2 separate regions of the Homo sapiens genome follow, and region 2 is linked to region 1. The links come from fine-mapping of genetic effects on gene expression. A gene starts in region 1. The other region holds a variant in brackets. All regions are shown on one strand. Distances are between the middles of the regions.

What was found. PIP is the estimated chance that this variant, and not a neighbour inherited with it, causes the effect.
Region 2: its variant is fine-mapped to the expression of FASTKD5 in whole blood (INTERVAL, PIP above 0.99).

The regions. Positions count from the first base shown.
Region 1 is chr20:3,158,447-3,161,458 of GRCh38, reverse strand. It overlaps FASTKD5 (FAST kinase domains 5), which reads left to right and starts at 1,594. Exons shown (of 2, transcript NM_021826.5): 1 at 1,594-1,693. It overlaps UBOX5 (U-box domain containing 5), which reads left to right and starts at 1,594. Exons shown (of 5, transcript NM_014948.4): 1 at 1,594-1,693.
Region 2 is chr20:3,112,387-3,114,886 of GRCh38, reverse strand. All of the region lies in intron 4 of UBOX5 (U-box domain containing 5), which reads left to right. All of the region lies in intron 5 of UBOX5-AS1 (UBOX5 antisense RNA 1), which reads right to left. Among named protein-coding and RNA genes, the nearest start is that of UBOX5-AS1, 6.7 kb to the right of the region's middle. The variant C/A (reference allele first, on the strand shown) is at 1,358.

The DNA.
Region 1 (3,012 bases):
CTCCTTCACACCCCTTAGAGCCAAGGCATTGACAAGATATGAAGACCCTGATCAGCAGATCTCAAGTGCCCTCAGGAATGGCAGCCTGGGGCCAGGACTTTCTGATAGGTAGAGGTTTAGTAGAGTCTCTTTCTTGTCTAGGTACCTATACTGACAGCTGTGTCAATATATGTACCCAGTAGGACCCAGCCCTCCTTCTTAGGGTGGTGGAGAATCACCCTGGCTCATGCTCCATAGCTCTGGCCTCGCTAAGCCCCAGCTCCACATCCATTTCTCTCAGCAGGCTCATCTATCCATCATGTCACTAGCTCTTTTCCTGAGAGCACTTTACAGATACATCTCTATTATAAATGCATTAAAAAAAAAAAAAGATGGAGTCTCACTGTTGCCCCGGCTGGAGTGCAGTGGTGCAATCTCGGCTCACTGCAACCTCTACCTCCTGCGTTCAAGTGATTCTCCTGCCTTAGCCTCCCAAGTAGCTGGGGTTACAGGTGCACGCCACCATGCCCCGCTAATTTTTTTTTGTATTTTTAGTAGAGACGAGGTTTCACCATGTTGGCCAGGCCGGTCTCCAACACCGGGGATTACAGGTGTGAGCCACCACACCCGACCAATGCATTGTTAAAATTAGACAGGTGTGGTGGTGCATGCCTGTGGTCTTAGCTACTCAGGAGGCTGAGGCAGGAGGATCACTTGAACCCAGGAGGTTGAGGCTGCAGTGAGCCATGATTGCACCATTGCACCCCAGCCTGGGCAATGGGGCAAGACTTTGTCTCAAAAAAAAAAAAAATGTATTGTTTTTCTCACTGTACAGGCTTAGAGAATTTATGTGGGCCGGGTGCGATGGCTCATACCTGTAATCCCAGTACTTTCGGAGGCTGAGGCGGCAGTATTGCATGAGCCCAGGAGTTCGAGACTAGCCTGGGCAACATAGGAAGACACTGCCATCCCCGTCTCTATGAAAATAATAATAATAATATAACAAGAATGAATTTATGTGACTTCTCCAAGGCCATAAAACCCTGAGTGGTGGTCCTCAGATTTGAACATGTGTCTAAGCTACTTACTTTTTTTTTTTTTTTTTTTTTTTTAGATGGAGTCTCGCTCTGTGTCCCAGAGCTGGAGTACAGGGGTGCCCAGACTGGAGTACAGTGGCGAGATATCGGCTCACTGCAACCTCCGCCTCCCGGGTTCAAGCGACTCTCCTGCTTCCGCTTCCTGAATAGCTGGATTATAGGCGTGCGCCACCACGCCCGGCTAATTTTTGTATTTTTAGTAGAGACGGGGGTTTCACCACGTTAGCCAGGCTGGTCTCGAACTCCTGAACTCAGGTGATCCGCCCGCCTTGGCCTCCCAAAGTACTGGGATTACAGGCGTGAGCCACCGCGCCGGGACTAAGCTGCTTAATGACTTCCAGAGCGATCCATCCAGGAAGGTGTTTTCCCTCTGCAGGTCCTAGACTCCCCCTGCCTCCTCAACAACGTCCTCCAGTGGAAAATGTCCTTGGGAAACGCTGACAGAGTCTTTTGAGCCTCGGCCGCATCCGTCACTCGCGCAGCAGGCGGAAGTAGCGGGCAGTTGGCCGGAAGTGGGGCTGTGAGGCTCGGAGTCGCCGGAGGAGCCAGTATCTGTGTCGCCGCCGCCCGCGGCGTCCCCGGTTTGGTGTTGCGGCGCCCACCTTCGGGAGGATCAGGTGAGTGGCGGCGGCCGGGGAGGAGGTCGCGGCGGCCTCTTTCCGCGTTCACGACCGTCCTGGGCCTTGGCCTGTGCCTCCTGTCCTCCCGGCCGGCCCAGAGCTGGAGCGCATCGAGGCCTTGTTCAGCTCTTGGCCTGGGTTGCCAGTGCCTCTCGCAGGCCTGGCTGTGGTGAGAACTTCAGTGACTCTCGCCGCTCCTGAGTTTGTGATCTTTGGCAGGGGGCTTATCTGACCCTTGATTTTTTTTCCTCTGTGAAATGGAGATCGTAACAGTACTTGTCTCACGGTGCTGTTAAGAGAATGTAGTCAGATATTCTGCCGCGCCTCTCATCACACTTTGATGTGCCTGCGAATCGCTTAGAGATTCTGATTCTGTAGGACTGGGGTGGGTTCTGAGATAACTGTGTTCCTAACTAGATTCCAGACGAGGCTGAAGCCTCTGGCACGCAGACCACACACTGAGTAGCAAGGCCCTACAGTATGTTGCTTAGCATTTGGGATGCGGAGTCTTCGGTAAACATCAGTATGATAGGATATATACCTTCCCCCCATTTTTAGCAGTTTCTCGTTGCACAAGCCTAAGGGTAGTATTGATGGCCTTCTCCCTTTTTCTTTCCGTGGGTAAGAATAGTTGCTCTTTCTCTTTCTGTGCAAACCGTGACACAGCTCTTCTGTCTTGACTCAGGGAACTTTGGGTCCCCTCATATCAGCTGTGTTCATCAGTCTTGGGTGATGCTTCACTGATCAGACCCTTGGACAGTGCTTCATCCTGTGGAGCTGATAGCCAGCTGCGTTAGCACCAACTGTGGCTGGCGTTTTGTGCTCCAGTCATTTGTTGCTGCTGGAATCTGAATTCACGTTTTCTACACTTTGTGAATAGTAAGAATGGCTGCCTTTCCAGAACTAGATTCTGTAGCTCACTGACCTGAATGGTCCTGGGCAAGTCCTTGGATAGTTTGCTACTACCTGGTAGACTAAAATAAAATCTGGGCCGGACACAGTGGCTCACGCCTGTAATCCCAGCACTTTGGGAGGTCAAGGCGGGCGGATCACGAGGTCAGGAGATCGAGACCATCTTGGCTAATATGGTGAAACCCCGTCTCTACTAAAAATACAAAAAAATAGCTGGGCGTGGTGGCGGGCGCCTGTAGTCCCAGCTACTCTGGAGGCTGAGGCAGGAGCGTGGCGTGAACCCCGGGAGGCGGAGTGTGCAGTGAGCCGAGATCGCGCCACTGCACTCCAGCCTGGGCGAGAGAGCGAGAGTCCGTCTCAAATAAATGAATAAATAAATAAATAAATAAGTAAATAAAATCTGA
Region 2 (2,500 bases), 46 kb after region 1:
AACCTCCGCCTCCTGGATTCAAGCTATTCTCCTGCCTCAGCCTCCTGAGTAGCTGGGATTACAGGCGCCCGCCACCATGCCCGGCTAATTTTTTGTATTTTTAGTAGAGACGGGGTTTCACCATGTTGCCAGGCTGGTCTCGAACTCCCGACCTCGTGATCCGCCCGCCTCGGCCTCGCAAAGCGCTGAGATTACAGGAGTGAGCCACCGCGCCTGGCCTTTTTTGTTATTTTTTTCTCATCTAGCCAGTCTGCAGTCTGACATCCGGGGCACTTTATGTAAATGTGAAGAGAGGTTTGGTTGGGTTTGTCGTCCTCATCCCTTCAGATTAACACTTCCGTCAGTGTCTTAGAAAGAGCAGTGGCAGCTTATGGGCCAATTTTGCCTAAAATGAACCTTGACCCCCATTGTATGCCAGAATCTATTAGGATACAAAGCAACAGAAACTGATTGCAACGGGAGGCATTTTTTACGAGATGGAGCTCCTGCTGTGCGAAACGCCTTCTCTCTTGGCTTTTAGGCTGTTTTGCTTCTTTTCTCCTATCTTCGGTGGTCCCTCTTCAGTTTCCATTGCCAATTGCCTTCTCTACCAGCTCTGGCCCTGGACTCTCTAATCTCAATATTCTCTGTTACCCAAGTGAAAACTCACATCTCCGGCAACTGTCCATGTTCCCCTGTAGCTCCTGCTTCTCCTTGGAACTCATCCTGCCGCCCTGACAGCACTCAACATCCTCTCTCTTTTTTCTTTTTTTAAGATGGAGTCTTGCCCCTGTTGCCCTAGCTGGAGTGCGATGGCGCGATTTCAGCTCACTGCAACTTCCGCCTCCTAGGTTCAAGTGATTCTCCTGCCTCAGCCTCCCAAGTAGCTGGGATTACAGGCACCCGCCACCACGCCCAGCTAATTTTTGTATTTTTAGTAGAGATGGGGTTTCACCATGTTGGCCAGGCTGGTTTTGAACTCCTGACCTCAGGTGATCCATCTGCCTCGGCCTCCCAAAGTGCTGGGAATACAGGCATGAGCCATCATGGCCAGGCTCAGCATCCTCTCTAAAGGAAACATTCAGACTCTGTACTGCTCACATCTGCCCTCCAGAGCTTTTCCCCCTCACTGCCCCCATCATCCTACCTGGGTAAGGGCAGCATCTTCTGTCTTGTGGTGAGGCTTCTAACACAGAAGTCATTCTCGAGTTCCTTCAGTGTCCCCATCCTGACATTCTGTTCATTATCAGGTCCTGTCCATCCTCCCCCAAGGTGACCTCAGGTTAGTCCCCTGCTCTCCTTCTGTGGCCCCTCCCCTGGCTGCAGCTCCCACTGCCTCACTCCCAGACTCCTGCAGTAGCCCCTGCTGGTATCCCCC[C/A]ATCCTCGCCTTACTGTGGCTCATCATACTCATAGCAGTTGGATCTTTTTATCATGTCAGCCCATCACCATGCTCCACTTCTTCAAATCCTACCATGGCATCCCCTGAACTTAGGATAAAACCTCAACTCCTACTCCCTCTGAGGTCCTGCCTGCTGGAGCCCCCATGTCTCCTCCTCTGCAGTCTTATCTGAAGCCCACTCTCACTGTGTCTTTTTTTTTTTTTTTTTTTTGAGACAGAGTCTTGCTCTGTTTCGCTCTGTTGCCCGGGCTAGAGTACAATGGCGCAATCTCGGCTCACTGCAACCTCCACTTCCTGGGTTCAAGCAATCTTCCTGTCTCAGCCCCCACTAGTAGCTGGGATTACAGGCAAACGCCACCAAGCCCAGCTAATTTTTTTTTTTTTTTTTTGTATATTTAGTAGAGACAGCGTTTCGCCATGTTGGCCAGGCTGGTCTCGAACTCCTGACCTCAGGTGATCTACCTGCCTCAGCTTCCCAAAGTGCTGGGATTACAGGTGTGAGCCTCTGCACCCAGCTTCACTGTGTCTTTTTCTTTTCTTTTTGAGATGGAGTCTCGCTCTGTCGCCCAGGCTGGAGTGCAGTGGCACAATCCTGGCTCACTGCAACCTCTTTCTCCCTGGTTCAAGCAATCCTCCTGTCTCAGCCTTCTGAGTAGCTGGGGCTACAGGCGCCCGCCACCACGCCCGGCTAATTTTTGTATTTTTAGTTAGAAACGGGGTTTCGCTATGTTGGTCAGGCTGGTCTCGAACTCCTGACCTCAGGTGATCCACCCACCTCGGCCTCCCAGAGTGCTGGGATTACACTGGGATTACAGGTGTGAGCCACCGTGCCCGACCACTGTGTCTTTTTCTTTAACGGATAGGCTGTTCTTTGTGCTTGCTCTCCTTTCATTCTGTGTGGCTGGCCCCTTTTTATTCTCACAGCTCTTCCTACAGGAGGCCATGTTAGCCCACCCTTTTCAAAGCAAGCCCTCTTTTTTATCCTCTCTGTCACCTCAGTTTGCAGTTATATACTTGGGTTTCCATCCTGCCCAGGGCACAATAATTGTCTTTTCCTTGATGATTTTTTTTTTTTTTTTTCTGTCACTGAAACTGCCCCTGGGGCTCTGGGCCTCTGAGATC